Linked DNA regions of Homo sapiens: region 2 is linked to region 1. Evidence: fine-mapped expression QTL. A gene starts in region 1. The other region holds a variant in brackets. All regions are shown on one strand. Distances are from middle to middle. Region 1 holds the start of C1QL2 (complement C1q like 2). Region 2 has its middle 75 kb from the start of C1QL2.

The links. PIP is the estimated chance that this variant, and not a neighbour inherited with it, causes the effect.
Region 2: its variant is the best candidate, but not a certain one, in a credible set for the expression of C1QL2 in lung (TOPMed, PIP 0.56).

The regions. Positions count from the first base shown.
Region 1 is chr2:119,155,454-119,160,826 of GRCh38, reverse strand. It overlaps C1QL2 (complement C1q like 2), which reads left to right and starts at 2,076. Exons shown (of 2, transcript NM_182528.4): 1 at 2,076-3,241; 2 at 3,846-4,584. The coding sequence starts at 2,558. The coding sequence ends at 4,025. RefSeq lists an enhancer at 2,898-3,708.
Region 2 is chr2:119,080,974-119,086,346 of GRCh38, reverse strand. No RefSeq gene overlaps it. Among named protein-coding and RNA genes, the nearest start is that of C1QL2, 75 kb to the left of the region's middle. RefSeq lists a silencer at 494-660. The variant C/G (reference allele first, on the strand shown) is at 2,594.

The sequences.
Region 1 (5,373 bases):
CGTGCTCTTGGGATGACTCTGAGGCAGAGAGTGGAGAAAGACTCCCAAGTCTGAGGAAACCAGTGAAGACTGTGGCCAAGAAGTAGCTGTTGAAGCTGTGTTCACTGACAGGTTCAGATAGCCCCTGATCTGGGTGCCGGGAGGATCCTGGCTCTGTCATGTGGGTAAAATGCACTTGGCAAACACCCTACACTTGCAAAACCTTTTTTTTTTCCTCATTGGTGCGGTGGGAAAATGATCACTAATCCACAGTAACATGAGGAATGAATGAAGGAGCACGTGCAAAGTGCCTGATGCATACGTAGTAGGTGCCAATAAATGTGCTCCTTCTCTCCTTGGTAAAGTTGGCTTCCGGCTAGGCTCAGTCATCCTTTCCACAAATATATGTGGAGAGAACAGGCTAGAGCAACGAGGTTGGGAGTGGGGAAATGACCCAGGGTGATCAGAGGACAAAAATAGATTTTAATTAACCCGTAAGAACCTAGTGCAGGACAAATGAGAGTTAGCTTCAAAGCAATAGCCTTAGGTGGGTGCACTGTTGTTCCAGAGATGCTGATGCTACACCAAACACTGACACCAGCCCTTAGATTCTCCCCCCAGGACAGGCCTGGTGTGATTCCCATGTTGGGGGTGCTAGGGCAGGAGGCGGCCTTTTAAGGAAACTGAGTCTCAGGGACAGGAACCACCTGGCAAAATCACACAGCTACTCAGGGCAAGAGCAGAAGCTGGGGCTTTGATTTCTCCGCTGGAAGTCTCTCCCACACCGGCGGGCCTCTCATCCTTCCTTAGCCTCACATGCTACATTGGAGATAGACTATTCTGCTCTCATCTGAGGCCATGGTTTATTCAAGACTGGCTCAGAATGGCTTTGGACTATTTGGACTATTTTCTAAAATAACTAAACCCATCTCAGGAGGAGGAAGCTGGGGATGTCCAAGGGAATGTGCCCATGCATCTGCCTGGCAGTGGCCGGGCTTGGAGTAGAAGCTGAGTGCACCATGATCACTGCCAAGTGCCGGCATCAAGCATTTGGTTTCTACACCAGCTTCACGCAGAGGACAAGGGCCAGCCATTTTCTGGTGGAAGAAAAGGTCTGAGGCGAATATTCCTTTTTTTTTTTTTTTTTTTTGAGATGGACTTTTGCTTTTGTTGCCCAGGCTGGAGTGCAATGGCACGATCCCGCCTCACCGCAACCTCTGCCTCTCTGGTTCAAGCGACTCTCCTGCCTCAGCCTTCCGCGTAGCTGGGATTACGGGCATGCACCACCATGCCCAGTTAATTTTGTGTTTTTAGTACAGACGGGGTTTCATCATGTTGGTCAGGCTGGTCTCAAACTCCCAACCTCAGGTGATCTGCCCGCTTCGGCCTCCCAAAGTGTTGGGATCACAGGCGTGAGCCACTGCGCCCGGCCGCAAATATTCTTGTATTGGGAGCCTTGGGCTTTTTAGAGTCACCTCAGAGGTTAGTGGGGTGCTCTACGGGAGCCTGTTTAAGAGTCTGGAGTCCTTAGTCTAGGTTTGCGAAAGATCTTCCAGAAGCGAGATCTATTCAATTCTGAAGAAATAACTCAGGAGGTCTTTCAGAAACTCCTTCCCGCTGGACCTCACGGGACTCTCCTGGACTCGGTGGGTTGAGGTTTGATCCTCTTTGCAGGCCAGGGGATGGATTAGGTGACCCCAGAGGAGCCCTGCTGACACCTGGATTCCAGCTGCTTTCGTGGCCATGTGGGGGTGGCTGTGCGTGCCCCGCCACTGCGTGCGTGGGTGTCTGTGTGTGTTATCGGTGGGGGGCGCGTGAGTGTGGCCGCGGGTGGGTGTGTCCGATGTGCCCCGGCTTGGGACCGCGCCCGCTGCGCCCACTTGTGGCTCCTGGGAGCCGCCAGGGGGAACCGCGCCTTCACCGCCTCTGCCGAGGACGCCGCCAGATAGGAGGCTGATGACATGAGGGCTCCGTCTCCCGAGTGATGGCAGCGCGCGCTGCTTCGCCGCCTCCGCCGCTCAGCCCCGGACTCCTTACGTCAGGGTAGCGGGGTCCCCCCTCCGCGCGGGAGCCAGCGAACAGCGAGAGAGCACAGCAGAGCGCGCCGCGGAGCCGGGGCGCCCTCACTGCGCTAGGAGCCCCACTAAACCCAGCGGAGCGGAGCCTGGCGGGAGGCAGCGCCGCGGAGCCAGCGCCGGACGCCGCAAGCAGACTCCCCGGCCAGCGCAAGCACTCCCTGGCCGGCGCCGGACCCTCGGGGCGCCGGATTCGTCTTGTGTGCCCCACGTCATGCGCGCGGGCGTCCGCGGCTCTCCCGACCAGCCCCAGCGCGGTGGGCCCAGGCTCAGAGGTCCCGGCGCCTCTCGCTGAAGTAGTTGGGTAGCCGGGGCTGGGGGTCGCCACGTCGGGGGCGCGGCCAGGACCCGCGGAGCCGGTCCCCGAGCGCGGGGAGCGGGGCCGCCCGCGCCGCCCCACCATTACCTCCCCGGGCGGCAAGGAGGAGCTGGTGGCGGTCGCCTCCCGGCTGTGGCAGCGGCGGCGGCGTGCCTGCCTGGCGGCCGTCGGCGTACTCTTGGCCATGGCGCTCGGGCTGCTCATCGCCGTGCCGCTGCTGCTGCAGGCGGCGCCCCGAGGCGCCGCGCACTATGAGATGATGGGCACCTGCCGCATGATCTGCGACCCTTACACTGCCGCGCCCGGCGGGGAGCCCCCGGGTGCAAAGGCGCAGCCACCCGGACCCAGCACCGCCGCCCTGGAAGTCATGCAGGACCTCAGCGCCAACCCTCCTCCTCCTTTCATCCAGGGACCCAAGGGCGACCCGGGGCGACCGGGCAAGCCAGGGCCGCGGGGGCCCCCTGGAGAGCCGGGCCCGCCTGGACCCAGGGGCCCTCCGGGAGAGAAGGGCGACTCGGGGCGGCCCGGGCTGCCAGGGCTGCAACTGACGGCGGGCACGGCCAGCGGCGTCGGGGTGGTGGGCGGCGGGGCCGGGGTAGGTGGCGATTCCGAGGGTGAAGTGACCAGTGCGCTGAGCGCCACCTTCAGCGGCCCCAAGATCGCCTTCTATGTGGGTCTCAAGAGCCCCCACGAAGGCTATGAGGTGCTGAAGTTCGATGACGTGGTCACCAACCTCGGCAATCACTATGACCCCACCACGGGCAAGTTCAGCTGCCAGGTACGCGGCATCTACTTCTTCACCTACCACATCCTCATGCGCGGCGGCGACGGCACCAGCATGTGGGCGGACCTCTGCAAGAACGGGCAGGTCAGTGACCCCTACACTCACCGGCCCCCGTAAACCCTCGCCCGCGCCCTGAACCTCCCAGGGAACCAGCCTCCTTTCTCTCCACCCGCGGGCTACCCTGCGAGCCCCGGGAATGAACGCGCCTCGGTGCCACAGTATCTCCGCTTCCCGATGCGCCGAGGCCGCGCTCACCGGGACGTAGAGCCAAATGTTGGGCCTTGAGAGCCCAGAGACCCCCATACCTAAACTACACTCCTTGGCCACTTGCGTCCCTGCCTGCCTCTCCGTGGGCTTCTCGGAAACCTCAGTTCTTTAGTTCTCTCCAGGTCGCCCCCTTGCCCTGCAGCCTCCTTTCCTCTTGGCCCTGGCCCCTGGCTCCCACCCTTCCACTCTGGGTCAGTGTTCATGAAGCTTCCCCTCTCCCTATTTCCCAGACTCGTCGGCGCGAGGAGGAGGGGGGACCTGGAAGGAGTTGACTAAGTTGGAGAGAGAACATGGAGCTGGGGTGGGAGTGTGGACCCTGAAGCAGCAGGCGGGAGGCCCGTGAGTGGCGCGCCTGGTGTGGGCTGAGCAAAGGCGCGGGAAGAGGTGCCCCGGCTCACCTGCTCCCACCGCTTGTCCCCAGGTCCGGGCCAGCGCCATTGCACAGGACGCCGACCAGAACTACGACTACGCCAGTAACAGCGTGGTGCTGCACTTGGATTCAGGGGACGAAGTGTATGTGAAGCTGGATGGCGGGAAGGCTCACGGAGGCAATAATAACAAGTACAGCACGTTCTCGGGCTTTCTTCTGTACCCGGATTAGGGGCGCGGGGGGTGCGAGGCGGGGTGGCTGCAGGCCGCCCGGTCTCCGCCCGGGCGCGGCTCCTTGGCAAAGGCCACTCTCGATTCATAACACTTCCTGACATCTCCTTTGGAAAAGACAAATCCCTGCGTCCTCCCTGCCCCGCTCCTGGCCTCAGTGCGTCTGCGACCCACCACGCTCAGGGCTGTGCTCCTGGTCTCCATCCCCATCCCGGCAAGGGAGGAAGGGACGCCCGAGCCCTTGAGGCGGCGGCACAGACTTTGCAAACCTGATTAGACTGGACAGGCAGGGCCGGGAGCCTGCCCTCCTCAGACAGCCTCCTCCCAGTGCCTAGAAGCGGAGGGCTCCGGGCCCTGGCCAGGGAGGTAGGCCAGAGGGAGCGCGGGCTTCCTGGGGCGTCCTTCTTTGTGACCCGAAATACTTGTGCAGATTTCCCTGTCCATCAGCCAAAACCCCACCCACAGCAGAATTCCAGCAAACAGAAAATTCACCTCTCCACACCGCATTCCCTCCTGACTCAGACTCACCGCGATGCATTAAATTATGTTTTTAGACTATGCGTTCTGTTGTCTGTATGTCGACACATCCTGGACCAGGGCTCCAGATGTCCGCCTTGGCATAAAGACCTTACCTGGGCCCAGGATAGGCCCATCTATGACCTGCTCCCCAGCCGCTGCTATGTCCCTGCCACCAGAAGTTGCCGAAAAGACATGGGGTAAATGGGAGCTGCATCCCACCCTTCCCAGAAGCTCTCCCCAGGCTGCAGCCCTGAGCTGGAGAGGCCGGAGGTGGGGTTGGGAGGAGGGGAGGAGGCGGGGAAAGGCATCAGGGAGAGTTAGAGGAAAGCAGGAGAGGAATGATTGGGTCTCCAGTCTTGGGCAACTTGGGCAACTTAGTCCTCCCGGAGTTGTGGGTGGAGGTCAGAGGGGAGGGGCTTCTGGGGAAGGAAGGGGAAGAGAAGGCATCTATGGGAAATGGGAGGCGTGAGTGACACTTGCCGGGGAGGGATCTGTAGGATGTTTGGCTCCTAAAAGGAAGTGCAGAAGTCCCTAGCAGACACACACCCGCTCGAGCGGATGGTTCACTAAGCACAGGCCTGTTTACTCACAGCCGCCAGGGCCACCGCTCTCCGGAGAGCTGGTAAACTGAGGCAATTCCGCGGATCATCCAGCTTGCTGAACTTCCTCAGGGCTGTGTGTTGAGGTGGACACCATTCCTTGGGGAGGGACGCCTCTTTCCTGCGGGCTTCCCTTCCCTTATGCATGCGATTTGGGGTGCCTGCTCTGAACCTGAGTGTGTGTGTTTGGTGTCCCATCAGCATTCTACACACACACAAGTTAGGAAAACA
Region 2 (5,373 bases), 74 kb after region 1:
AACTAGCTATTTTTTTCATCCTAAACACAAATGCTTTAATTTCTTGTCTTTTTTTTTTTTTAAACAAGAGTGATGTTTTTAAAATGCAATCTCCACTCTAATCTTTACCACTTTTGAAAGGCTCCATTTTTTTTTTTCTCTTTTAACCCACGAAGTTATCTTTGGTGCCGGGGGCAGTACCCCTGGAATGTTCCTTTGTCCTCTCAGCTGTCTCAGGCCGGAGGTGGATGTTTTTTCTTGCTATTTGTTATTCTTTTTGTCATAGAACAGATTGCTCTTGGCTTCTCTTTATTTGCTCCTTTGTTGGTTTATTTAGAAAATAGGGCCAGTGTAGTCCTACCATGTCAGACAAATCCAGGGAAAATGAGAATAATAATTTTAAAATTACTGTTAGTGATCATCTACAATATGCCAGATACTGCACTTGGTGTTTTACATGTGCTTTTAAGTTTAATCCTTGCGGGCCAGGTGCAGTGACTCATGCCTATAATCCCAGCACTTGGGGAGGCCGAGGTGGGCGGATCATCTGAGGTCAGGAGTTCAAGACCAGCCTGACAAACATGGAGAAACCTTATCTCTACTAAAAATAAAACATTAGCCAGGCATGGTGGCGCATGCTTGTAATCTCAGCTACTCGGGGGGTTGAGGCAGGAGAATCACTTGATCCTGGGAGGTAGAGTTTGCGGTGAGCTGAGATCAGGCCATTGCACTCCAGCCTGGGCAATAAGAGCAAAAACTCTGTCTCAAAATAATAATAATAATAACAATAATAATAATAATAATCCTTGCAACAGCACTGTGAGATAAGTATTGCCAGCTTCATCTAATTGATGAGGCTCAGAGACAGGTTATGCAACTTCCTGAGGTCACACAGCTCCTAGATGCCAAAGCTAGAAGTCAAAAGCATGTCTGGCTAAATCCTCAGCAAGATCTCCAGTACTTCACAGATGTTGCTTCCTGCTTAGTTCCTCATGCCTGGAATGCAAGAGCTTCTTAGGTAGCACCTTCTCATATAGCTTCTCCTGGCCCATATCCCTGGGCATCCAAAGCCACTTGCTTGAAGAACTCCAGAGACCAAAGGGTGGCAGTTTTGGAAGTTTTCTCTTTGATTTCATTGTCACGTCTATATTAATGTTAGGCTTCTGCATGATCATTAGTGTTGCAACTTAACTCTGCTTGAGATGTTTTCACCCACATTAGAAGCATCCTTGCCTCTCTTGGATCACCTTTGTGGAAAACCCCATCCATTGCCTTAGGACAACCATGGGGCTTGAAGTTGTACCCAAATACATGGGCGCAGCACCTGGGGACAGGATATTGTTGTGGTCCTGCATTTCTTCCTCTCCACCTTTGGCCCAAGCATCCCAGAATGGGCCCCAAAGTGAACATGGACAGGCACTTCGTCCTGCCAGAGTCAGAAAGATCCCCCATCCCTACCACACATTGCCACCATCATCAGAAATTCAAAGACAAAGGCACCAGGCATCGGGAGGTGTCTAATACGCTTAGGATAGAATACCAGCAAGAGGGGGAAACACAGAAAATGCTGAATTGTGAAGTTTGGTCTAAAAATCTCTCCCAGCTATTTGGACCAAATCCAGACCTAGCGGCCTCTGAGTGAGCTGAGTAATTGCAGCTCAGTCTTCCTCCATATTCTCATCACGGGTGTCCCTGTGCACCGCCTTCTCAGGGGGCTGATGCACCTTCCATCTTCTTAATACTTCCAGCTTTTTCACCTACTCTACACAAATACTGTTTATTATGCAGTACCAGGTTGCCATTGTTTTGTTTTCATTGCATTTATTTTTGTAGTTACTGTCCATTTCAGGAAAATAATGTTTGTTTTCCATGGGGGATAGTGATATAAAGTTTTATTTTAAAAAAATGTATTTAAGCAAGAACAGACAGTTCGTGTAAAAATATGAAGATATGATTATACAGATGCTATGAGGAGATGAAAACAATAGTGCACGTGGTATAGAAATAGGAGATATTGCCCTGTGTAATTTTGAGGGATGAAATAGAGGAGAGAGGAAACAATTTGAATTAAAATGCTGCACTGCAACAGACTAAGGAGGTGGCAGTGGGTGCCGGTTGGGCATGCCTGGGTCAGATGAGCAGTTAAGTGATAGGAAAGAACCTTGGAAACAAACTCTCTCCAAGAGCTGGGCTGGCTTATACGTGGCTCCAACCCAGCCCTGGTCACAGACGTGGGAAACTTTTTTTTTTTGTTTTTTGAGATGGAGTCTTGCTCTGTTGCCCAGGCTGGAGTGCCGTGGTATGATCTCAGCTCACTGCAACCTCCGCCTCCCAGGTTCAAGCGATTCTCTCTGCCTCAGCCTCCTGAGTACCTGGGATTACAGGCATGTGCCACCACACCTGGCTACTTTTTGTATTTTTAGTAGAGACAGGGTTTCCCCATGTTGGCCAGGCTGGTCTCAAACTCCTGACCTGAGGTGATCCACCTGCCTTGGCCTCCCAAAGTGCTGGGATTATAGACATGAGCCACTGTGCCTGGCCAGATGTGGGAAACTTTAATGTACGAGGTCCCTGAGAACTTTGGAACCAGGTCGGCTGGTGGCCATGTGGACAA[C/G]TCCTCCTCGTGACAGTCATCGACCGTAGTCCCTCACCTGATGGGCCCTGTGTAGGCATTGTAGGGGGCTCTAGGAAGCTCAAGTAATCTTTGTCCAGTTACCTTTCAGGGCCTGTGGCTGAGCTGAGGCAGAGCCTCTGATGACTGTCACACTCGGCACAGGCCCTTGGGAGGAAGGAGGGCCAGGCAGGGCTGGGGGTGTCACATGTTCCACATGATGGACTTGAAGGAGAAATTTCAGGATGAAAAATTAAATGAATGCCACAAGAGCATCGAGGCAGAGGCAGGGTACAACCAGAGGGACACACAGAGGCTGTGCTCATCACTGAGTGGCAGGGGTGGGGGTCCATAATCACGCCTCAATTTTTGAGTGATTAAAATACTGGCCATGCTAGGAAAGTCAGTCTGACTGGCATTGATGGAAGAAAAGGGTTGTTTGATGGAATCGACTTTTAAGTTCATCAAAACAAAGAGATAGAGAGAGAGCAGCTGCTTTCTCTACAGGCCAAATAAGAAGGGAAGAAGCAGTTGCAGGAAGCGGGTGAGAGGAGCCACAAAGCAGAACAGCTGGAGATGAGAGAACCCCGTGGGCTGTGAGCATTGGGAGGGGCCTTGTTCAGTCCCTGGGTTAATTCTCTTCCCAATGCCTATCCCTTGTCCCAGCTAACAGAATTCTCATACAGGCAATGGAGCATGGTTGGCCTAAGCCAGTCAGGACAATTCTGTTTCCGTTTTCCCAGATGCTCCTCTAGCTGGGGTTGGGGACGTGAGACTTAATCATGGCCAATGAAGAACAAAGCATGTCTCCTGGAGGACTCTACGAGAGTTTTACTGTCCTAATAGAAAGTTCAGATGAGCCTGGTGCTGTCTTCGAATCCGTGTCCTGCCTTGAGCACATTGGATGTTCTAGAGCTGCAGCAGACGTTGTGTGATCCTGGGTGCAAGCCAACACGCCCATGGTGGCAGAGCAGGAAAGTAGAAAGAGGTTGGAATCTTTGATGATGTCACTGGGCCACTGCACCAAGACCAAAGCAGTCTAACTCTGGATTTCTTGTTATGAGAGATAATTAATATATTTATTGCTTAAGCCACTGCTTGTTAGTGTTTTATTACTTGCAGCTGAAAATCCTCCTGGTGGATACATGCTTGATTTTACAGAGGATCCTTAGGCCAGGCAAGGGGCCAGGACCCACCCAAGATCACATAGTTGATTATAAGTTCCCTCAACGGACTTCAGACTGTTTCTTGAACTCTCCAACCCTGGCTGCAACCAACTAGGTTAGGCCCATGCCTCTAGGCTCTTCTCAATCTCAGTGCTCCCCCTAGTTGATTCTGCCTTTGGTGCTTGATAAATCTTACTCAAACATAATTTTCTTTACCTTGGTTTCCTCATCTCTTTCCCTTATCATAGCCCACAGTGGGGGCAGATTTAAATTCCAGGTCCTCTCCCTGACATCACTGTCCTGTAACCCTGACTGAGGTGTAGGTCTCCATACTGCACTACCCCCCAACCATGACCACCTGGTTTGGACGCTTTTGTTCTTCTACCTTGACTCTTCCCTGCTTCTGCCCTGTTGATTGCTGCTCATTCTATGAGGCCCACCTCCTCCATGAGGCCCACTCTGACTGCCCGGGGTTCTAACTTGGAATCTTATATGTTCATGAATGGATTCTTTTAATACTAGCACTTTACCTTATACTATCTTTTGAATATTTTACTAGTACTTTCTTGGGAGAGAAAGTATCTGTATTCTGCATCTTTGGGCTACTTCACAGTTTCATGGCATATAGTAGGTAATTGAAAAATACTTAGAAATTATAAATTTGTATAACATGACAAGGTAACCCACACAATGGGAGAAAGTATTTGCAAATCATATAACTGATAGGGGCTTGTATCCAGAATATACAAAGCACTCTTGTAACTCAATAATAGAAAGATAAATAACCCAATTTAGAAATGACCAGAGGATCTGAGTAGATATTTCTCCAAAGAAGATATACAAATAGCCAATAAGCACATGAAAATATGTTCAATGTCATTTGCCATCAGGAAAATGCAAATCAAAACCACAGTGAGGATGGCTATAATAAAAATACAAATAATAACAAGTGTTGGTGAGAATGTGGAAAAATTGGAATTCTTGTATACTGCTGCTGGGAATAGAAGATGGTGCAGCTGCACTGGAAAACAGTCTGGCAGCTCCTCACAGAGTCAAGAATAGAGTCACCATCTGATCCAGTAATTCCACTCCTATGTATAGACCCAAGAGAAATAAAAACTTGCACCCACAGAAAAAAAATTGTACTTAAATGTTAATAGTGGTATTATTCATAATAGCCAAAAAATGAAAACAGCCCAAATATCCATTGACAGCTGGATGAATAAATAAATGTGGTATATCCACACAATGAAATGTAATTCAGCAATGAGAGGTACTGACACATTCTACAACATAAATAAACCTTGAAAACCTTATGCTAAGTGAAAGATGCCAATTTCAAAAGTCCACATATCATATCCACTGATACATACCCATTGACATTAAATGCTTAAAAAAGACAAATCTGTAGAGACAGAAAAGTAGATTAGTGGTTGCCCAAGGCTGGGAGGTTTGGGAAGTGGGTGATGGAAGTGGCTCCTAATGGCAGGGTTTCTTTTTGAGGAATGAAAACATTCTAAAATTGATTGTTACAGAATTCTGTGAACATACTAAAAAAAAAAAAAAACCATTGAATTACATACTTTAAATGAATACATTATATCACATATGAACTAT